3 linked regions of the Homo sapiens genome follow. The protein of the gene in region 1 purifies or fractionates together with the protein of each later gene. This does not show direct contact. Each region holds a gene or a part of one and is shown on either strand. Other genes may lie near its edges. The genes, in order: SNU13, ZC3H18 and ZNHIT3.

Region 1 (6,422 bases):
CTCCAGTTGAGTGTGTATAAGACGACATTTTGAACTGCCAAGGTAGAAACTACCTGGTAGGAGGAGACAGCTCTTCCATAGCCTTCTGGTAAAAAAAAGTCTAAGCAAGTGGCCAGGCGTGGTGGCTCACACCTGTAATCCCAGCGCTTTGCGAGGCTGAGACAGGCAGATTACCTGAGGTCAGGAGTTCAAGACCAGCCTGGCCAACATGGTGAAACCCTGTCTCTACTAAAAATACAAAATTAGCTGGGCGTGGTGACGCACGCCTGTAATCCCAGCTACTTTGGGGGCTGAGGCAGGAGCATCACTTGAACCCAGGAGGCAGAGGCTGCAGTGAGCCGAGATCGTGCCATTGCACTCCAGCCTAGGCAACAAGAGTGAAACTCTTTCACAAAGAAGAAAAAAAAAGTCTTAAGCAGCTATCACCACTCTAGTAAAGCTAAGTATGTCTTCATTCCAATTTTAGCCGGATACTTACTAAGAATCAGGCACTGCCATTCTGTCATCAAAATGGAACAGATTTATTAGGATGCTCACAAGAATGGAGAACACATGAACTAGCACTCTCCTCATGTGACAGAGAGTACATCTGACCCACATGGTGGCAGGACACAGGGGAAGGGCTCTCAGAGCTGGTGCCAAGTGTCCACCAAAGAAAGTCCCATTCACCAGAGACAGGCTGTTTCCTTGGACTCCACCATCTCTGTTACAGCTACCAGCCAGGTCTCCATGATCTTCCTGGAATCCTTCATGCCAGCATCAGTTCATGCTCTCTGAGCTTGTCACTCCCGACTCTTTCAAGACCCAGGTCAACTGCCCCATGGCTCACCCACCCAGGCTGCCTCCGGAGTCCTGCAGCACATCTCTTTGGTATGCTGCTGCCCTGCTACCCTCAAGGGCATGGTTGTGGGTAGGGGGAGAACATCAACATCACATTACCAAAAGCAAACAGCAGGGGTACATTAGTAAACGACACTTGGACATAGCCGAACAACCTCACAGAACACATGCTTCCTCCCCAAATGATACCTAATCCCCCAAGAGCAAATGAAACCCCTTGATCACTTGAACACGTATGAATGATTCTGTGTGCCAGGCACAGGGACACACAATGAATGCTGTTTAATTCCACCACACCCCGCACACAACAGGAAGCTAGTGGCTGAAAGCTGGAACCAGATCTCTGTCCTGGCTCCATCAGCTTTCTCCTGGCTCTTTCTGCCTTTCAACGGTGCCACCACCCTGCTTCTGTCTGCTCTGAACACTTGTTCCAAAAAGGGAGGATAAAAGGATGAAGGATGGCAGAGGGAGGGAGGAAAGGAAGGGGGATAGCAACCCTGTAAAACAGAACAAAAACAACACAAAAATCCAGAAACCAGATTTAGTACTACATTTTATAACAATAGAGAGTAGCTGAAAATACTACATGCTAACACAGATAATATGATACACAACCTCAGGGGGGAAGCTGGCAGGGAGCACGTGGCAGAGGCCACAGGTTTAGACTAAGAGCCTTTCAATGGACTGCTGAATGGATTGGATCTGCTGTTTCAGCTGCGAGCCTTCTTTGATGGTGACAGAACAGGCGATGACAGGCCTGGAGACCCCACAGGCTCTCCCCAGGGCCTGCTTGGAGCGCACAAACACGTAGGGCACATTCTTGTCTTCACACAGCAGCGGCAGGTGCAGAATGATCTCCAGTGGCTCGGCGTCTGCAGCCATCACGATGAACTCAGAGATGCCCCTGTTGAGGGTTTTGGTGGCTGCGGAGAGAAGGACGTGAAGCTAATAGGTGATGTGGGCTTGGGCAGGGCAGCCACAACAAACTGGGAAGAATGCCTAGGCACACACAATTATGTGTCCTAGACCGGCCCTGGGATATGATAAAGGATTCAAACACCAGTCAGTCATACACAATGGCATTTTCTCAAGCCCTACATTAAATCCACCACTTATCCTCAAAACACGTCCTGAATCTGACCACTTCTTCTTCTTCTTTTTTTTTTTTGAGATGGAGTCTTGCTCTGTCACACAGCTGGAGTGCAGTGGTGCGATCTTGGCTCACTTCAACCTCCGCTTCCCGGGTTTAAGTGATTCTCCTGCCTCAGTCTCCCAAGCAGCTGGGATTACAGGCACGTGCCACTGTGTTTAGCTAATTTTTGTATTTTTAGTAGAGAGAGGGCTTCACCATGTTGTCCAGGCTGGTCTCAAACTCCTGACCTCAAGTGATCCACCCACCTCGGCCTCCCAAAGTGCTGAAATTACAGGTATGAGCCACTGTGCCTGTCCTAATCTGACAACTTTTTTCTTTCTTTTTTTTTTTTTTTTCTTTTTTTGAGATGGAGTCTCACACTGTCGCCCGGGCTGGAGTGCAATGGCGCAATCTTGGCTCATTGCAACCTCTGCCTCCCAGGTTCAAGTGATTCTCCTGCCTCAGCCTCCCAAGTAGCTGGGATTACAGGTGCCTGCCACCATGCCCAGCTAATTTTTTGTTTCACTATGTTGGCCAGGCTGGTCTCAAACTCCTAACCTTGTGATCCACCCACCTTGGCCTCCCAAAGTGCTGTGATTACAGGCATGAGCCACCACGCCTGGCCCTGACCACTTCTTTCTACTCCTCTGCTATACTCGTCCAAGTCACCATCATCTCTTACCTTGTCAACTGCAACAGCTTCCACAAACCCCCACCAGCAAGTAGTAGTATATTAATAATATAGTATTTCTCAAGGTATCTGTGACTGAGAGTCAGAGTTTTACCATCTCAATCTGCCATAATCAATACTTCTAGAAAGCTGATCCCACATGCGACTCACCATGCAAGTTCAACACCCCACAGCACCGTTTCAGATGCGTACTCTCCTGACTGCTTGCCTCTGTGGCTCAGTGCGAATACTCTGCATTCATGCTGGAGTACTTGAGAAGGGCACACACTCTAGAGCTACACTGTCTGAGTGCAAATGCTGGCACTCATTCTTGTTACACAAATGACCTTGAGCAAGGTGTTTAACTTCCCTTACTTTTATCATCTATAAAATAATTCTACCTAACAGGATTCTACCTAATAAAAAAAGAATTACCTAATTCTTTTTAACCTAATTCTTTTTTTTTTTTGTATCAAAGAAAATATTTTATTCAAGTTCCCAAAACAAACTTCAGGAGTTATGCTGGGTTTGAATTGAAGAAAAAAGGCCAAGTTAAAATAGGAAAACAAATGGTTTTCATTTGGTGGCAGCTGAAATCAAAGTATACATGTATATACATTCTAATCCATCATCTATCCCATGTGGCATTTTCCAAGGTTTTAAGAGTCTACCACGCCAAACCCTTTGCCACTTTCACTGCTTTTGCTTTGCTTTTCCCCTTTCTTTTCTCTCGCTTTGCCGTCAGCCTTTTTCTTTGCCTTTGGTTCATCCATATTGGGTACTGTCCATGCTGGTCTAGAAGAGTCTTTTTGTTTCTCTTAGTATCAGTCTCCCTTTTCATGTCATCTTTTTCATCTTTTACCTCACATTGCATTTTCTCTTGGCAATGTTTGGGTACCACCACAGTTGCTATCTCTTGAACATCTTTCATTAAAACATCACCGTCTAGTTTGAGAATACTTTTAAGCCTGCTGGCCTCCTTTGGGGCATTCTTTTTTCTCTTTTCAGCACGCATCTTTCTTTTCCACTTACTCCGTAAGCTTTTAGCCATGTTTCACCTGAGAAACGAACACCCACACCTCAGCTCTTTTTAACCTAATTCTAATTACCTAATAATTCTACTTAATAGGATTATTGAAAGGATTAAACCAGTTAATAAGAATGATGAGGCTGGGCATGGTGGCTCACACCTGTAATCCCAGCCCACTGGGAGGCTGAGGCAGGTAGATTGTTTGAACTCAGAGTTTGAGACCAGCCTGGGCAACATGGCAAAACCCCATCTCTACTAAAAATATAAAAAATTAGCCAGGTGTGGTGGCGTACACCTGTAGTTCCAGCTACCTGGGACGCTGAGGTGGGAGGATCACCTAAGCCCAGGAGGTCGTGGCTGCAGTGAGCCATGATCAATGCCAATGCACTCCAGCCTGGGCTGCAGAGTAAGACCCTATCTCAAAAAAAAGTAAAATAAATAATAATAATAATACCTGACACATGGCAAATGCAAAGCATGTTCATTTCTATTGATATTACTATAGCTTACTCACCCTACAAAAGTCATAGGAGTGACTCTTTTATAAGTGTTAAGTAAGATCATAGCAATCTTGCTGTTCAAAATCCTTCTACTCATTTACCATTGTACTCACTGCTAACAGTGGCCTACATGGTCTCATGTGATCTCCTAGTACCTCTCATCCCCACACTTAGTTCCAGCCACACACCAGCCTCCTTAGAATCCCTCAAGCATGCCTTTACACCATGCCCAAAAACGTTTCTTTCCAACACCCTCATCTATTCAGTTCTCTGCTCAAACTCCTCAGACAGACCTTCTCTGAATACTCCATCTAAAAAGACCCACCACTGCCATTCCTATCCCCCTTCTCTACTTTATTCTGTTTTACAGCATTCTTTTTTTTTTTTTTGAGACGGAGTCTCACTCTGTCGCCCAGGCTAGAGTGCAGTGGTGAGATCTCGGCTCACTGCAAGCTCCGCCTCCCGGGTTCACACCATTTTCCTGCCTCAGCCTCCTGAGCAGCTGGGACTATAGGCGCCCGCCACCACGCCCGGCTAATTTTTTGTATTTTTGGTAGAGATGAGGTTTCACCGTGTTAGCCAGGATGGTCTCGATCTCCTGACCTCATGATCTGCCCACCTCGGCCTCCCAAAGTGCTGGGATTACAGGTGTGAGCCACCGCGCCCGGCCTCTTACAGCATTCTTTACCACCAGGCATAAAACCTATGTCTTTCTCCACTGGAATGTATACTCCAAGAAGGCAGAGACTTCATTTTGTTCACCAGTGCATCATCAGCATATATACATGCGCCTGGCACATAGCAGGCAATCAATAAATATGGCAAGAAAGAATACCTGACACTGAGGCAGAAGTACGGAAAATTGTTGCATCTCCCTCCCTGAACTCCCAGTAAGCATATTCTGAATTAAGTCGCTGAGACTGAGCATCTCCATTCAAGGACCTGTGTGCTTATCACCGTGCAAAGTATGGCAAGAGGAAATAAGGTTGCTCTGTGTCCATGAGTCCTCATCTACCTGAAGTGTAAGAAGTCACATCCCTGCCCAGCCAAGCTGACCTGAGTGCATCAAGTGAGAAGAGAGACCTCCCAGGAGAGCTGGTGGGTCACCCTACAATGCCCCACTGGCCACTGCTATACCAGGCACTGCAGTTACTGCAGTGTGACGAGCAGGGAGGAAAGAGCACTACGACGAGACCCACAGAGTCTACTTTATCTTCCTTCAGCAACACAGGTAAAAGCGATTGTAATAGTTCTCCTAAATCTCAAACACAGTTGACAAAATCTCTGATGTTTCCATTAAAAATCTTCAACGACAAAAGAGCTCTACCACATCAAACTACCCAGCATCTATTAAAATGAGAGTATTCTGGCTGGGCATGGTAGCTCACGCCTGCTGTTATCCTAACACTTTGGGAGGCCAAGGCAGGCAGATTGCCTGAGCTCAGGAGTTTAAGACCAGCCTGGGCGACAGAGCGAGATTCTGTCTCCAAAAAAATAAAATAAAATAAAAATAAGGCTGGGCAGCCGGGCACAGTGGCTCACGCCTGTAATCCCAGAATTTTGGGAGGCCAAGGCAGGCGGATCACTTCAGGTCAGGAGTTCGAGACCAGCCTGGCCAACATGGTGAAACCTCGTCTCTACTTGAAAAAAAATAAAAATAAAAATAAGGCTGGGCACAGTGTCTCACGCCTGTAATCCCAGCAGCACTTTGGGAGGCCAAGGCAGGTAGATCACCTGAGATCAGGAGTTCGAGACCAGACTGACCAACATAGTGAAACCCCATCTTTACTAAAAATACAAAATTAGCTGGACGTGGTGGTGCATGCCTGTAATCCCAGCTACTTGGGAGGTTGAGGCAGGAGAATCATTTGAACCCGGGAAGCGGAGGTTGCAGTAAGCTGAGATCCTGCCATGGCACTCCAGCTTGGGCAACAAGAGCAAAACTCTCCAAATAAAAAAATAAATAAATAAATAAAATAAAATTAAAAAAATAATAATGAATAAAGTGAGAGTATCCTATATCACCTCTGGGCAGAAGCATCATGCATACATAATTATTCTACTGAAAAACAGCTTTTTTTTTTTCCTTTTTTACAAAGGGAGGTAGTGCTCGCTTCAGCAGTACATATACTAAAATTGGAACAATACAGAGAAGATTAGCATGACCCCTGCACAAGGATGACATGCAAATTCGTGAAACGTTCCATGTTTTTGAATAATTGCATCCAAAAAAAAAAGGGAGAGGGGTAG
Region 2 (7,987 bases), on another chromosome or scaffold:
CTATAAAAACAAACAAAATACAAACATACAGAAATACCTGGCTTTCAGACACCAGTGAAAACCTTTCAGCCCTGACTGCCGAGACTTTAACATTTGGGGGTCCTGCAGTGTAGATACCGGCTCCTGGGAGAGAAGCTAGGGAGCCAGGAGCCAGCTTCTGTCACCTGGTGCCAGGATGGGAGACACCTGTTTCTGTAACCAACACTGATAGGTAAAACACACACAGAGGGCACTCCAAAAAACCTCAGAGACCTGCCGAACCACTTCCAAGCAGGCAGTTTTCCGGTCCCTGCTCCAGCCAGGGAAACTGGAAATAGAGTGTCAAGGATCACGCCCAGGTTCTAAAATCCATCCTTCCCCACACATATTTATAGAGACCTCTGTGCACACGAGCTCTGGGGAAGGAAAGACGATATCCACATCTAACAAAAAAACACAAAGGCCTCCAGGGCTTCAGGAGACACCCCTGGTGATCCTGCAGAGTTCTGACTCAAATGCTCCTTTCTGTGATCTGACATTCCACACAAAACTTAATTAGAAAATGTACATGTTAACCAAGTCTTTAAATACCTATCCCTTTAACCTCTAAGCTCTCACCTGCTGGGGCAGGTGTGGGCCACTGGGGCTTCCTCCCCCAACTTCCGCAGGCGGAAAGCCCAGGGTAGCCTGCTCGCGGCAAGAAGGCCTTGAGAAGGGCCTTGCAGGGCCAAGTCGACAGGACCAAATCCTGGAGTGCAAGCCCTGCACGCCTTCCTTTTTTGAGCACCGTTTATTGTCACTCCAGATAGAAATCATAGTGATTATGATTCCCTAATAGCAACCAGAAATGTACAGGGCTGCTAAAGCCTCAGCATGATGGAGTGCCAATTCAGATCTGCCCGAATTATAATCCAGTTCCCTGCCCTGAACCTCACCGTGCCATCCACAGGCAGAGGAAAACAGCACTTTATATGCCATGCAATCCCCCAAGATCTGACTTCCACCCTTCGACCCAGGCACTTCTTCTGTTAAGACAGGATTTTTAAAGACCAGGCATAAAGGGGCTGGGTGCAGTGGTTCACGCCTGTAGTCCCAGCACTCTGGGAGGCAGGCGTGGGTGGATCACTTGAGGTCAGGAGTTCGAGACCATCCTGGCCAACATGGTGAAATCCATCTCTACTAAAAACACAAAACTGAGTTGGGTGTGGTAGCAGACACCTGTAGTTCCAGCTACTCAGGAGGCTGAAGCAGGAGAATCACTTCAACCCAGGGAGGCGGAGGTTGCAGTGAGCCAAGATTGCGCAACTGCACTCCAGCTTGGGCGACAGAGCAAGACTCTGCCTCGGGAAAAAAAACCAAAAAACAAAAACCAGCCATCAATGCCCTGGAGGAGAAGCAGTGAAGGCAGAACAGCCCTGACAGCGAAGAGGCCGCAGCTGTTGTGTTCCTGGCTTGTGGCAACCTCCACACGTTTCCTGGCTCCTGGGTAATGTGGGCAGGGGTGAGGAGCCAGAAACACAGACTTGTGGGGCTCTAGAGGCCTCAAGGACAGCAGCGAAAACTCTCAGAGCTCAGGAACCACAACGGTGTGAGTGCTGCCAGTCAAGGCCCATGGCACAGAGCCCTAACGCTTCCTTCCTAGAAGCAAAAAACTGAGATGAGCTCTGAGAACCGTGCCTGAATGCTCTCAGGAACGTCACTGAGACTCCAGTGAGTGGGGCTGGGTCTCAGCCGAGCGCACCCTGGGGCCCTGCACATGGCTGCTCTCTCCGGAGCGTGGCCGCATGCAGGAAGGAAACGGAGGGGCAGGCAGGGCCATTCCTTACACTGTGTCTCTGACATCTCTCGGGATCCGAGAATTCCAATCTCGAAAAACTTCATTTTCTTTGTCAAATTCCCGTTCGTCTTCGCCAATGGTCACCGTAAACCTTTTCTCTTCAAAATCAGGCTCCTGTTCTTTTCGAATAGTTGCTTTTTTTAAAACCTACCATTGTAAGAAGAAAGAAGTCAACATGGAACAGAATACCGGGCGTCGCTGTTAGGAAACACAAAGGGAGCCGTCCCACCCGACCGCAGCAGCCCTGCAGGAGCAGGAGCTGCACGCTGCAAGTGCTCAAGGGGTGAGGGGCGGACACAGCACAGTTGTCCTTCTGGGGAGGGCAGTCTGTGCCCGTCTCTGCACAAACAGCTGCCCCCGGCCTCCGTGTGCCCACATGAGGTGTTCATCACTTCCTTCAACTACCCTTGGAACTAGATCCAGGGTTCAGTCACTCAGTGACAAGCAGCAGGTGGAGTGGCTGGAGTCTCAGAGGGAAGGAAGTGACATGCCGAGGGAGTGAGAAGGAACATCTTGTCCGTCATTTCCCAGCAGGGAGGCTGACCAGGAAAATGAGGAAGTGGGGCTGGGTGCCAGCAGAGTGGTCCCCAGAGCTGAAGCTCACACACTGGGGCCAACGTGGGCCTAGAGGGAGGAAGTGTGCAGTGATAGGACCAGAAAGCTCCAAGTTTTCTCCAGGAAGAGCAGACACTGAGTCTCAGGAGTGTGGGGTGCAGATCCTGGGGGTGCGGCTCGGGCAGCCTCGCCAGGCTTTCTGTGAGTGGCTGGAGACTGCACCCTGTGCTCCTGGGCAGTGCCAGCTGGGGTGTGGCCCAGTGCTGATCCAGCCCCATGAAGACAGTGGGTATGCCCTGGACTGAACTCCCTGGCCTACTGGGCTGCTGCCTGAGACAGTTAGATATAACTCTCCATCCTTCCGGGCCTGGTGGCGCATGCCTGTAATCCCAGCTACTTGGGAGGCCGAGCAGGAGAATCACATGAACCTGGGAGGCGGAGGCTGCAGTGAGTCGAGTTTGGGCCATTGCACTCCAGCCTGGGCAACAAGAGTGAAACTCTGTCTCCAAAAAAATAAATAAATAAAAAATAAAGAAAGACACCACAGAAACAGACGCCTAACTTCAGAGATTTCTGGGGCTCTCTCTGGACCGAGGAAATCCCAGTTTTGTCAAGAACCACTCCTGTAATAGCATCTTTCTTGTCGGGATTTCTGCTGAATTGTGTTTACCTCCTTTGCATGCCGGAGTCCTCGTTCCCAGGCACTCTCTGTTGGGGGCTCTGGAGGGGGTGGAGGCAAAATTTCATCAACTACCGGCCCACCCTATTGAAAAACGAGAAGGGAGAAGGTGAGAAAGTAAAACTTTCAAGTGTACAGAGAAACCAGACAGTAAAAACATCAACTACAACACAAGCCGGCCGTGTGTGGCCGCTCTCCTTCCACCAAGCCTCACTCCGTCCTCGGAAAGCCGAGGCCTGCTTCCACTCGGGACGACAGAAGCAGCCGAAAGGGGGCACTGAGCCTGTGCTAAGGCACAGTGACTTGTCTTAAGCTTGAGATTCAGACACAGCTCAGTTGGCTGATGTGCTAACAATGAAAGAAGAGGCATCACGCACCCAAGGGTTGGCGGGCATCAGCGGGTGAGGTCCGAGAGGCGGGGCACCATTAGGCGGGAAGGGGTCGGCTTTGGTGATTAGGGAGTAGTTCCCCTTGTCGTTCACTCCAGGGTGTATAAACCTACAATTCATTCCCCAGGTACAGTTCCCTATGGAAACAAAAGTGAGATCAGAAAGGGTCCACAAGAGCCTAATTGCACAAGGGCAGCTGCTGGGGTGGGGGGTGGGAGGGGGCAGAGGCCATGTTTACCCAGGCCTGATGGCGAGCCACACAGTAGTGGGAACTGAACGGGGAGGTGGGCGGGATGAGCCTGGAGAGGCTGAGCCAGACAGCTGCACCTGCCCAGGCACGGCAGTTCCCCAGAGGCTGCCAGGCACCTCGGTCAGAGTGACCACAAAGTCACTTTGTGGAGAGTTCACGCGTATCAACTGTCTGAGTATTAATTTTCCCCTTAAACCAGAAAAGCCCCAGAGCTTTGCTTCCAGCCCTGGCCCAGGCTCATCTAGGTACAACTGGATGTTAATTGTATTTGTGCCGAAACAGACATCAATGAGAAGCATTAACAATGATCAGAAGCCTGCAGGTGTGCTCAGGGTCCCCTTGGCCACCTCTGTACGTCTGCATTTCTCTCACAGAGAAAACTCTCACAGGGCATTTCAAGATATTTCTGGAACTGAAACGGGCTTTTACACTTTGCTCATAAATAACAATCACAAACCTTCATCTTCAACAGAATATCCGGGTTAGTAAAGGAGACCTCGACTTTCAAGTGTAGAATATAAGACATCTAAGTGTCTAACTCAATTACTGAGTGAATCACTTTTTTAAAATGTACTTTTTTGGGAATAGATAATGTGTACACATTGTTTAAAACCAAATATGGCATATAGTATCTAAGCGGTTTAAAAATTTTTTTCAATGGGTTAACATGCAGTTAGATTTTAAATCATTTAAAATTTTAACCTTAAACATCAGGAACACTTAAGCCTGCATTAAAACCAACTCAATACAACATAATAACAATATCGATCCAAATTAAACACGAAAGAAAACTTAAAACTGCTTCTCTGGAAATGCAAAAATGACAAGTAATTTTTAAAATTTCTAAAAGCATTTCAGAGATCACACATAAGTCAAACGAAGTTGGGAGGCCAGGCGTGGTGGCTCACGACGTCAAGAGATCAAGACCATCCTGGCTAACATGGTGAAACCCCGTCTCTACTAAAAAATACAAAAAATTAGCCGGACGTGGTGGCAGGTGCCTGTAGTCCCAGCTACTTGGGAGGCTGAAGCAGGAGAATGGCGTGAACCCAGGAGGTGGAGCTTGCAGTGAGCCGAGATCGTGCCACTGCACTCCAGCCTGGGCAACAGAGCGAGTCTCTCTCAAAAACAACAACAAAAAACAAAAGAGGTTGGGAAATGTTATTCTATAGGGGGTTCAAAAATCCAGAGCCTCAGAGAGATTTAAAGAAAAACTGACTATGCAGTCATCCATCTGAGACTCAACACACTACAGAGCTCTTCATGGTTTGCCTCTGAAAATACTCATGCAGTATTCAAAATCACGTGTGTAACTAAACAAGTAACAAAAGCTCATTGTAAAAAATGTCCAAGTACAGAAAAGTGCTGACAATAGAAACCACAGCTTTTCTGTACTCCTTTTCCTTTTTTTTTCAGATGGAGTCTCACTCTGACTGAGTGAGACAGTCCCAGGCTGGAGTGCAATGATGCAATCTCGGCTCACTGCAACCTCCACCTCCTGGGTGTCAGTGATTCTCCTGCCTCAGCCTCCTGAGTAGCTGGGATTACAGGCGGGTACCACCATGCCAGGCTAATTTTTGTATTTTTAGTAGAGACGGGACTTCACCAACTTGGTCAGGCTGGTCTCGAACTCCTGACCTTGTGATCTGCCAGCCTCGGCCTCCCAAAGTGCTGGGATTACAGGCGTGAACCACCACACTCGGCCTCTGTACTTCTTTTTCATCTAAAATATGTATCTGGGTGGTGGCTAAATGTTATCGTTCTTTTCTGTATTTATGAAAATTTTTAGGACATCACCTACGAACCTACTATCAAAAAAGATCCTTTCTCACTGATATTGGCATGGGGAGAAAAGAGGAACAAGGCAGAAGAGAACAAACCAGTGAGCGCCAAAGAGCAAGCTGAGAAGGCGAGCGTGGGGCTGCCACTAGAGACCAGACACTAGTGGGTGACAGTGTTCAGCTCTCGGGAGCCACCTGCCCGGGGGTGCTGAGCGCTGTCCTGCCCCTGGCCAGAGTAAAGGGGAAGATGGCTCTGGAAAGCAGCACAGTTGGTCTGCACGTCTAGCTGGGACACACTTCCAGCAGACGTCAGGCAGAAAGAACACCATTGTCCCATCTATCTTTTTAAAATGTGAACTTTTATCTGTGTAGGAACACACCCAACTGTCGGGAATGTGGGAAGGGGCTTTAGATTTTATTTTCTTGCCTTCTGCCAGCCCATATTACTTTCTTTCCTTTTTTTAATTTTTTTTTTTTTGAGATGGAGTCTCGCTCTGTTGCCCAGGCTGGAGTGCAGTGGAGCGACCTAGGCTCATTGCAACCTCTGCCTCACAGTTCAAGCAACTCTCCTGCCTCAGCCTCCCGAGTAGCTGGGATTACAGGTGTGCACCACCAAGCCCGGCTAATTTTTGTATTTTTAGTAGTGACAGGGTTTCGCCATGTTAGCCAGGCTGGTCTCAAACTCCTGAAGTCAGGTGATCCGCCCACCTCGGCCTCCCAAAGAGCTGGGATTACAGGTGTCAGCTACCGTCCCCAGCCTTACTTTCATAATTTAAAAAGCAATTTGTTAAAAAAAAAAAAAAAAAAAAGAAAGAAAGAAATTATCCAGAAAATAGAAGCAACAATAAAGATCTTCTGGTTTACAAATGGGACTTCAAACCCAAAATTTATGTGGATTGTGATTCTAACAGTATAAAGATAGTTCTGCGGATACTGTGTACACAGACATGGCCTCAGGCCAGAAGAGGACAAGGAGGGACAGAGGCCGCTGGAGCGGGGCGGAGGCGGCCCCTCCACTGCTGAAATGTCTAAGTACTATTTCTGGCTTCAAGACAGGATGATGGTCTTTTTCTTAACTGGAATGTCGGCACAGCAGCAACTGGTTTTTCTTTTGTTTTGTTTTTGTTTTTTTGAGATGGAGTTTTGTTCTTGTTGCCCAGGCTGGAGTGCAATGGCACAATCTCAGCTCACTGCAACCTCCGCCTCCCAGGTTCAAGTGATTCTCCTGCCTCAGCCTCCCGAGTAGCTGGAATTACAGGCATGCACCACCACGCCTGGCTAATTTTGTATTTTTAGTAGAAACGAGGTTTCTCCATGTTGGTCAGGCTAGTCTTGAGCTTGCGACCTCAGGTGATCCGCCCGCCTCGGCCTCCCAAAGTGCTGGGATTACAGGCATGAACCACCACGCCCAGCCAACTGTTTTATTCTCTTATTAATCTTTACGCTTGTGTAAACACTGTATTATTTTATATATATGAAATATTTCATAATCAAATGAAATACTTGTAAATAAAAAATACCCACCCACTCTAAAAGGTACACTGTGAAGTTGACCACCTATCCCATGCCTCCAGGGCCATTCCCAGAGGCAGTTATCAATATACTGGGGCTCCATCCATCAATCATTGCCCCCTTTTACCTGAGCATATATATTATGCTCTGTGCTGAACCTTGCTTTTTTTCACTAAACAATGTAACTACAGAAAGGGAACCTGCATGCTCAGTAGCAACCAACCCAAACTGGATCAGGGAAACAGACAGGAAACAGATAGGAAACATGGAAAATCCGGAAACTAAACACAGAGGTGGCAGGAACTGAGGCTCAGCTCATGCTCCAGCACAGCCCACACATGAAGTATCTTTAAATGTCTCTTCTGATTTTGAATACAGTAAATATCAATTCCCTGTGTTTACTTGGTTTATATGTGTCATTTCTATTGATACGTACGATATTAGAAATTAAGAGACACTTAAAGATATCTCATTATTTAACAATAACAAGATATCCAATATATAGTAACAAATATTTATGAAACTGTTTTTAAAATATTTGGTGAGAGGAATAGCATTCTTTGCCTTTTTGCGAATCTCTTGAATGCTGACCCTGGAAAACCCCTGGCCTCCCATCTGCATGCGATCGACCATGAAGGGCCGCTGTGGCTCAAGCAGGAGAGGACATTACAGCCCCAGGAAGAGATGCAGCTAGAGAGGGAGGGGCATCTAAAAGCCTTTTCAGTGTGCTCAGAGCTTCTCCCTGACACCGCACTCAGCAAGGGAAGGCTCCTTACAGCGAGCTGCAATTGAACCCTATCACCACACTTTTCCAACTTGGTTCTTCTGAAATCCATTGGTCTATCTTGAACTTTGAATGGGTCTTTTACCCAGGCATGATTCTGTGACATCCTGCAATGGTCACCTGAGAAAGTCCTGACACACTGAGAAGCTGGTGAGCACACAAAAGTCCAATTTTCAACTGAAAGCTCCAATTTTAATACTGCTAACACTGTCCGTTGTTCT
Region 3 (8,921 bases), on another chromosome or scaffold:
AGTTCGAGACCAGCCTGGCCAACATGGTGAAACCCCGTCTCTACTAAAAATACAAAAATTAGCCGGGCGTGGTGGCGGGCACCTGTAGTCGTAGCTACTTGGGAGGCTGAGGCAGGAGAATCGCTTGAACCTGGGAGGCGGAGGTTGCAGTGAGCTGGGATCGCGCCATTGCACTCCAGCCTGGGTGACGGAATGACACATTGTCTCAAAAAAACAAAAAAAAAAAACAAAAAAAACCCCCAAAAAGTAAAAATGTTTTTTTGATTTTACCTATAGGTTTACAATTTTTGGTACTCCTTTGTGCAGATCCAAATTTCCATCTCATGTCATTTTCCTTTTGCCCGAATAACTAACATTTCTTGTAGCGTAGATCTGCTAGTGAAGAATCCTGTTGGGTTTTGTCTAAAAAAATCTGTTTCTTGTCCTCATTTTTAAATGATAAGGAAATAAACCTGGGGTCTCAGTTCCTCTTCCCCGCCCCTCACTGAGCAGAGTTCTTATGCACTGCTGCCATGTGGGAGGTGGAGATGGGTTCAGAGGTTTGTGAAAAGCTTGACGCGCTGCACGCCCACTCCACAGGGCACCTTTAGAGGCTTCTTGGGGAAGCTGGTCGGGTAGCTCTGACTCCTCGCATCTCTGTGTGTCCTTGGGAATGTCAGGTGGAAGATCGATGTGCATTTGCAAATGGGAGTGAGTGTGAGAAAAGAAAAATGTGGGGTTGTGGCTGGTAGGGTGTGTTCAGGGAGCAATGGTGACCTCTGTTGTCTGTGCTCTCCCAACAGTTCTGGGATTGTGGGGAATGCAATTGTTCTGTATCCCTTTTGTATTTTGGAAGTTCTCCGTGAAGTCTAACTGCAGGTCATATTGTCATTTAGTCTAGAGTTGGAGGATGGATATAATTTCATGAGTATGAAATAATATGCAGAGTTGTTGGACACCAACTGGGCCCACCCACTCCACCAGAACTCAGGTCTCCTTCATTTGACTCCCACCGGCAACGTCACTCACTTTAACACCTGAATTACTCTCTCTTAGATACCAGAGGGGAAACGGAGGCATGCAGGTGAGAACGTGGCAGCAGTCCCTAAAAGTCACTTCTGGTGCTGGCCCTGGCTCATCCGTGCCCTGGGGGAGAAATGCAAGTGTCAGAGCTGCGGAAAGGAGCTGAGATCTAGCAGGGCTCGCCCTTATCAACCTCCGCCTCTAACAAGGGCCACACAGCACGTAGGGGAGATTAGGCCGATCTGCCTGCCTCATCGCGGGAGGCCAGGAGGGTGGAAGGCAGCGGATCGCGCCCTAGCGAGCAACCCACATGCTCTGGAAGTGTGGTTCAACTTTCACCAGGCTACTGCGGGCGGCCGGCCAGCTGTCAGCGGGCACTCCGCCCCCAGGAGCTGTCCGCAAGCGCGGGGCGGTGGGCACCGCGGGGAACAGCCCCCGGACAGCCAGTGGCACGCGGAGACCTCGGAGAGCGCAGGCCCTGCTTTCCCGTAGGAACACTCGTGGGCATCGGGTCGCCCGCTTCGCCCCCGCGCTCTAGACGCACTTTCCTGCCGCCTGGCGATGTCCGAAGTGCATATCAGAGCATGGACTTGGTCTTCCCAGCGCTACCAGACCGCTGAGCCTCCCCGCACGTGGTGGGGCGCAGGCGGGGCGCCAGCTGCGCGGGAATCCGGGCGAGCGCGCTCCACCCGGGCAGTGCGGGCCTGGAGCGCCCTCTGGCGGGACGGTGCGCGGCGTTGCGCGTCTCCAGCCTTGGGATTGGCCCGGACTCGCCTTCAACGCACCGGACAGCGCTGCCAGGAGGCAGAGCTCTGAAAACCTCGACAACGACGCCTCTCTCTTCAGTGCCCGCACTGCGTCCCAGGCTGACGCCAAGGAGGCCCAAGACAGCCCTGGGTGGCCATTAGGACGGGTCTGGAGGGGACATCAGTGTGGACATCTAGTTGCTGGGCCTGGGGTCACAGCCCCCTTTCTTGTCTGAACTGGCCACTGCCCGGAGGAGCTGCGCTGTGCGCCTTAGTGTGCCACCACCTAACCGCCATCGCGGCTGAGCCCACCTCCTTTCCCGGACATTAGAGGACGAGGGGTGCGAAGGTCGGGGAAAGCTGGGGGCATCCAGATATCCAGAGTAGAGGAGGGGCCTCTTCCCTGCGTGGATGTGCATGGGAAGGATTCCAGGAATTTAATTTTCTTTTCTTTTGAGATGGAGTCTCGCTCTGTCACCAAGCTGGAGTGCAGTGGCGCGATCTGGGCTCACTGCAACCTCCGCTTCCCGGGTTCAAGGGATTCCCCTGCCTCAGCCTCCCTAGTAGCTGGGACTGCAGGCGCGTGCCACCACACCTGGCTAATTTTTTGTATTTTAGTAGAGACGGGGGTTTCACCATGTTGGCCAGGATGGTCTCGATCTCCTGACCTCGTGATCTGCCCGCCTTGGCCTCCCAAAGTGCTGGGATTACAGGCGTGAGCCACCGCGCCTGGCCGAATTTTCTTTTTTCTTTTTTTTTTCTGGAGTCATCATCTCTCCACTCGCAGATAGGGAGTCAGCGTGGTTTGTATGCAGGTGGGAGGGACTGAGCCCCTGAAAATGGTTAGGATTGTCTCTGGCCTCAGCCTTGGTACACACATCACAGGACAAATCAAGCAGACAGTGGTGAGTCCGCCACAGTGGGCAAATTTCTACCCGTGCCAGACAGTGTACAGGATCTTTTGTTTTTTTTTCTCTCTCTCTCTTCCTTTTGAGACAAGGTCCTGCTCTGTCACCCAGGCCGGAGTGCAGTGGCGTGATCTCCACTCACTGCAACCTCCACCTCCTGGGCTCAAGCGATTTTCCCACCTCAGCCTCCCCAGTAGCTGGGATTACAGGCTCAAGCCACTGCCCCCCGCTAATTTTTGTATCTTTTTGGGTAGAGATGGGTTTTTGCCATGTTGCCCAGGCTGGTCTTGAACTCCTGGGCTCAAGCCATGTGCCCGCCTTGGCCTCCCAAAGTGCTAGGATTACTGGCGTGAGCCACCTTACCTGGTGGGGCACAGGATTTTAAATTAAATTTTTTTTTTTTTAATTTTTAGAGACAGAGTCTTGCTCTGTCGCCCAGGCTGGAGTGCAGTGGCATGATCTTGGCTCACTACAATCTCTGCCTCTAGAGTTCCGGCGATTCTTGTGCCTCAGCCTCTCTAGTAGTTGGGATTACAGGCGTGCACCACCACACCCAGTTAATTTTTTCTATTTTTAGTACAGACAGGGTTTTGCTATGTTAGCCAGGCTGGTCTTGAACTCCTGGCCTCAAGTGATCTGCCTGCTTTGGCCTCCCAAAGTGCTGGGATCACAGGCGTGAGCCACTGCGCCTGGCCTAAATTTTTCGTCTTTAAGACGGGGTCTCTCTCTCTCTGTCATCCAGGCTGGAATGCAGTGGCACAATCATAGCTCACTGCAGCCTTGAACTCCTGGGCTCAAGTGAGCCTCCAGCCTCAACTTTCTAAGTAGCTGGGACTACAGGCTGATGCGACCATGCCCGACTTGGCACAGGATTTAAATATGGCCCTGGACAAGTCACTGGCCTTCTCTGGCCTTCCCAGGTAAGCTTGGACTTTCTGGGATGCTTCAAGTTCAAATCATCAGTGGTACAACTGTTGAACAATATGAGGAACGCTGCGGGTTACTGGGCCTGTGTGGACCCGTTTTGGATTCTAAGCTGGGTCCTGGGCAGAAGTTGGAGGCTGGGGCAGCTGCAAGCAGGACAGGCAGGTGGCCAGAGGGCCCAGCAGCTTCAGCACTGAGGACTGGACTGGGTCGCCACGCCCAAAGGAAGGATAATTACTCACCTCCCACTCAAGAAGCAGGCGGCAGAACTGTTTTGGAGAGCATGGCTTGGGGCCTGGGACCTATGTTCATGCGGTCCAGACGGAGATCCATGAGAGTTAAGACTCTTTCTAGATATCAGGTAGCACTTCTGATTACAAAACTTTTGCACATGGTCTCCTCTCTGCTTTACAACAGCTCAGGAAAGTAGGCCCAAACATCCACTTTAATAGATGAGGGAGCTCAGAGGGGGTAACCAACCCCTCCAGGTCACACAGCCAGGGAGGGGGTTGAGCCAAGGTTCAAACCACTGCCTCGGTTGTTGCAGATACATCCCTGCAGACACCTTTATTGAAGAGGGACCCTGAAGGCTGAACGGCCAACACAGAAGAGGAGGCACTTGGGAGTAAGGGTGATTTATGGCCCTGGGAGGGCCCAGTGCAGGTAGGATGGGAGCTAAGGTAAGGCTGGGCCATGCCTAGCTGCAAGCAAATTTCCTTAAAAAACAAACAACAAAAAACATTACTTTTTCTAAACCTAAAGTTTGTGGTGGCATTCAAGTCCCATCATAGCCCATCTATCCAGACTCATCTGCCTGGGATCCCCGTCTTGGGACTAGTGGTCACTGGCCTGCTTCCTGGTCAATTAGCTTCCGGGACTAGGGGGAGGTGTGAGGAGCCTAGAGTGCAAAATTTAAGAAGCACTCAGTCTCAGGGGCGTGCAGGTGCAGGGTAGCGACGGCAGGACTCTAAGAGTGAGTCTCTTTCCTCCCCGTTTCCCCGTCCTACTTTCACTCTAAGCATTTAGTTCCCAGGGGACAGAGACGACTTCTTCATTAGAAGACCCCGGGGGGTCCCCAGCCCGGAAGGGCTCACAGTTGGAGCTCAAACATTTGCCACTGTTCAGGCTCATCTTTCTTTCCCCAGTGAAAAATGGTCTAGGTTGGGAAGGGCAGGTTCCTGTCTACTGCGTGATCCAACCGATTCTGGTTCGCCCAATGTCTGGACTTGTCCTTTGCCAAGAATAAGCAGATGAGATGGGCGGATGAACCCCAATGTCCCTGCAAGATTCAGGAAGTCCCAGCCAGAAAGTAAAGGACGTTTAGTTCCATGTATTGTTTTCTTTTTTACATGCGGGGCAACACACCTGGACAGTGTCGATGGCTTGCTCCAAGCCACACGGCCGCATAGGGACAGGGACTGGGCTACATAACAAGTTCTTCGACGCTGTGATCTAATCAAGGAAAACCTGGGACGCAGCTAATAGATGCGCATCGAGTGTATCGACGCTCTAAGTACGAGGGCTGGAACAGTGAGCAGGATCAGTCCATTGCTTTTGCCTACCTGCTGAGCGCTGATTGGTCCCCGTTTAGGAAACGGAAAAAGGGGCGTGCACGCGGGCGCGGCTGCGTGAGAGGCGCGCGGCGGCGCAGTGAACAGTCTCCTTCCACAAAACCATGGCGTCGCTCAAATGTAGCACCGTCGTCTGCGTGATCTGCTTGGAGAAGCCCAAATACCGCTGTCCAGCCTGCCGCGTGCCCTAGTGAGCGGGGAGGTCGCGGGGTCCAGGGGCGCGGGTGTCCGGCCATGGCGGGAGGGCGGGAGGCCGGGAGGCCGGGCGGGAGCGGGCGGGCTGCTGGAGGGGCCGGGGACCCTCGGGGCTGACGCGGCCTGTGGCCTCTGTTGTTACAGCTGCTCGGTAGTCTGCTTCCGGAAGCACAAAGGTGAGCCCCGTCCCCGCCAGCCCTCGTACCACTGCGCACGGGGCAGCCCCCACGTCCAGCCTCCGTCTTGGGGGCGTGGACCCTTGGGCTGCGCTTCCTTTCCCGCCTCGGGTCTCCGCGGGTTCTGCAGGAACCTTGCTTCCTCTGACTTGGTCCCTGGTGTCTCTGTGTGTCGGACAGTTCCCTCTGTTGTCCCTGCCTGTAATCGCTCTCAGGGTTTTGGTCAGTAGCCTTTCTTCTACCCCGCTTCTCCTTCTGCGTGTTACTCTTTTTTGCTTAGAAATAGTTTCCGATTGCTTTTCCCACCGAGGTCTACCCTAGCAGTTTCTTCCTCAGTATTCTGATGTAGCCCCTCACCATTTGGCTGAAACTGCGCTAACTTTAACAGTATTTTCACTCGTGTAAATAATGTCTTGTTAGAAACAAAGAGGTAAGTCCATGTACAATACAAGGAGACGTCCTTGATTTGTTAAGAGAAAAAAAGAACCAAGTAAGTTCTGTGTATGATGTGAACACACTTTTGTACAGTTAAAAAGAAGTGACCTGGCCGGGCGCGGTGGCTCACGCCTGTGGTCCCGGCACTTTGAGAGGCCAAGGCGGGTGGATCACCTGAGCCCAGGAGTTCGAGACCAGCCTGGCCAACATGGTGAAACTCCGTCTCTACTAAAAATACAAAAATTAGGCGGGCGAGGTGCGCGCCTGTAATCCCAGCTACTCAGGAGGCTGAGGCAGGAGAATCGCTTGAACCCGGGAGGCGGAGGTTGTAGTGAGCCGAAATCGCACCACTGCACTCCAGCCTGGGCTACAGAGCCAGACTCAGTCTGGAAAAAAAAAGAAAAAAAAAAGTTTGATGTAGGTGGGGCGCGGTGGGTCACGCCTGTAATCCCAGCACTTTGGGAGGCCGAGGCGGGCGGATCATTTGAGCTCAGGAGTTTGAGACCAGCCTGGGCAACATAGCGAAACCCCGTCTCTATAAACAAACAAAGCCAGGCGTGGTGGCCTGTGCCAGTGGTCCCAGCTACTCAGGAAGCAGAGGTGGGAAGATCGCTTGAGCCTGGGAGGAGGAGGTTGCAGTGAGCCAGGATCGTACCACTGCACTCCAGCCTGGGAGACAGCAAGACTGTCTCAAAAAAAAAAAAAAAAAAAGCTTGATGTAGATTCTTTCAGCTTATTTCCACTCTTGTACCAATATATAGAACTTTTTTTTTTAGCTTTTAGAATCTCAGCAATGAGACTGTACCCAACATCCTCATTTGAGTTTATATATTGGGCACTTTTTAAAACCTAGTGCATACAGGCTGGGCGCAGTGGCTCATGCCTGTAATCCCAGCACTTTGGGATGCCAAGGTGGGTGGATCACCTGAGGTCAGGAGTTCGAGACCAGCCTGGCCAACATTATGAAACCACATCTCTACTAAAAATACAAAAATAAGCTGGGTGTGGAGGTGCGCGCCTGTAATCCCAGCTACTTAGGAGGCTGAGGCAGGATAATTGCTTGAACCATGGAGACGCAGGTTGCAGTGAGCCAAGACTGCACCACTGCACTCCAGCCTGGGCAACAGAGTGAGACTCCATCTAAAAAAAAATTAAAAAAATTAAAAATAAAGACTAGTGCATACAAGTTCTAGCTCACTGACTTAAAGGACTGTATGTTATTTCATTATATAGTTGGTACGACCATTATTTATATAAAGCCTCCTATTGGTTGATTTTTCTTTTTAATATTTGTTTTTAATTGACACATAATTGCATACAATTTGAGTTACAGTGTGATACTTCGATACCTGTATACAATGTTTAAGGATCAAATTAGGGTAATTAGCATATTCGCCCCAAATAATCATTTCTTCATGTTGGGAACACTCGCAATCCTCTCTTGTAGCTATTTGAAAGTATAAATTGCTGCCAACATGGTCACACTAAGGTACTGTGTAACACTAGAACTTATTCCTCCCATCTAGCTGTAATTTTGTATCCATTAAGCAACTTCTCCCTAGCCCCCTACACTCTACTCTTCCTAGCCTCCAGTTACCACTATTCTGCTCTCTACTTCTGTGAAATCAACTTGCTTAGCATCCACATGTTAACAAGAACATCTTATGGTGCCTGGCTTGTTTCACTTAACATTATGTTCTTTGGGCTCATCCATGTTCCTGCAAGTGACAGGATTTCATGGTTTTTTATGGCTAATATCCAGTGTATATATGTACCGCATTTCTTTATCCATCTGTTGGTGGATCCTTAGGTTCATTCCTTATCTTGGCTGTTGTGACTAGCAGTAAACGCAGGAGTGCAGGTATCTCTTCGGCAGACTGATTTCATTTCCTTTGGATATATATACAGTAGTGGGATTGCTGGATCATATGGTAGTTCTATTCGTAGTTTTTTTTTAGGAACCTCTATGCTGTTTTCCATAATGACTATACTAATTTACATTCCCAATAACAGTGCAGTGTATAAGAGTTCCCTTTTCTCCACATCCTTGCCAACATGTTTTTTTCTTTTTGATAATAGCCATTCTTACTGTGGTGAGATGATACCTCATTGTGGTCTTGACTTGCATGTCCCTAATAATTAGTGATGTTGAACATTTTTTCATGTACTTGTTGGCCATTTATATGTCTTCTTTTGAGAAGTGTCTGTTTGGCTCATTTGCCCATTTTTTTTTTTTTTCTTTTTGAGACAGAGTCTTGCTCTTGTCGCCCGGGCTGGAGTACAGTGGCGCAGTCTCTGCTTACTGCAACCTCCGCTTCCAGGGTTCAGGTGATTCTCCTGCCTCAGCCTCCAAAGTAGCTGGGATTACAGGTGCCTGCTGGCTGATTTTTGTATTTTTAGTAGAGACAAGGTTTCACCATGTTGGCCAGGCTGGTCTTGAGCTCTTGACCTCAGGTGATCCACCTGCCTCGGCCTCCCAAAGGGCTGGGATTACAGGGGTGAGCCACCATGCCCGGCCCATTTGTCCACTTAATTTTTTTTTTTTTTTTTTTTTGGCTGTTGAGCTCCTTGTGTATTCTAGATATTAATCCTTTGTCAAGTGAATATTTTGCAAATATTTTCTCCCATCCTGTGGGTTGTCTCTTCATTCTATTGTTTCCTTTGTTGTACAGAAGCTTTTTTGTGTAATAGAATTCCATTTGCCTATTTTTGCTTTTCTTGCCTGTGTTTTTGAGATTTTATTCATAAAATCTTTGCCTAGACCAATGTCCTGAAGCATTTCCCCTGTGTTTTCTTGTAGTAGTTTCAGGTCTTACATTTAGGTCTTTAATCCATTTTGATATTTATATATGGTGACAGATAAGGATCTAGTTTCATTCTTCTGCATATGGTTATTCTTACAGTTATCCTATTTTTCCAGTACCATTTATTGAAGAGTGCTTTTTTCCCCAGTATATGCTCTTG

What was found.
Region 2: the proteins of SNU13 (region 1) and ZC3H18 purify together in Homo sapiens (affinity purification with mass spectrometry; 2 studies listed by BioGRID and IntAct, with this or other methods). This does not show direct contact.
Region 3: the proteins of SNU13 (region 1) and ZNHIT3 purify together in Homo sapiens (affinity purification with western blotting; 2 studies listed by BioGRID). This does not show direct contact.

What each region holds. Positions count from the first base shown.
Region 1 is NC_000022.11:41,673,433-41,679,854, forward strand, and holds the end of SNU13 (NHP2-like protein 1), read right to left. Parts: intron 3,729-6,422; exon of another isoform or gene 3,694-3,728; coding exon of another isoform or gene 3,310-3,693; exon of another isoform or gene 1,770-3,309; intron 1,764-1,769; coding exon 1,501-1,763; 3' UTR 501-1,500; downstream 1-500. Other genes in the region: protein LLP homolog, read right to left, coding at 3,310-3,693.
Region 2 is NC_000016.10:88,593,767-88,601,753, reverse strand, and holds part of ZC3H18 (zinc finger CCCH domain-containing protein 18), read right to left. Parts: intron 3,577-7,987; coding exon 3,428-3,576; intron 3,135-3,427; coding exon 3,042-3,134; intron 1,964-3,041; coding exon 1,806-1,963; intron 1-1,805.
Region 3 is NC_000017.11:36,481,445-36,490,365, forward strand, and holds the start of ZNHIT3 (zinc finger HIT domain-containing protein 3), read left to right. Parts: upstream 1-5,236; 5' UTR 5,237-5,255; coding exon 5,256-5,341; intron 5,342-5,490; coding exon 5,491-5,522; intron 5,523-8,921.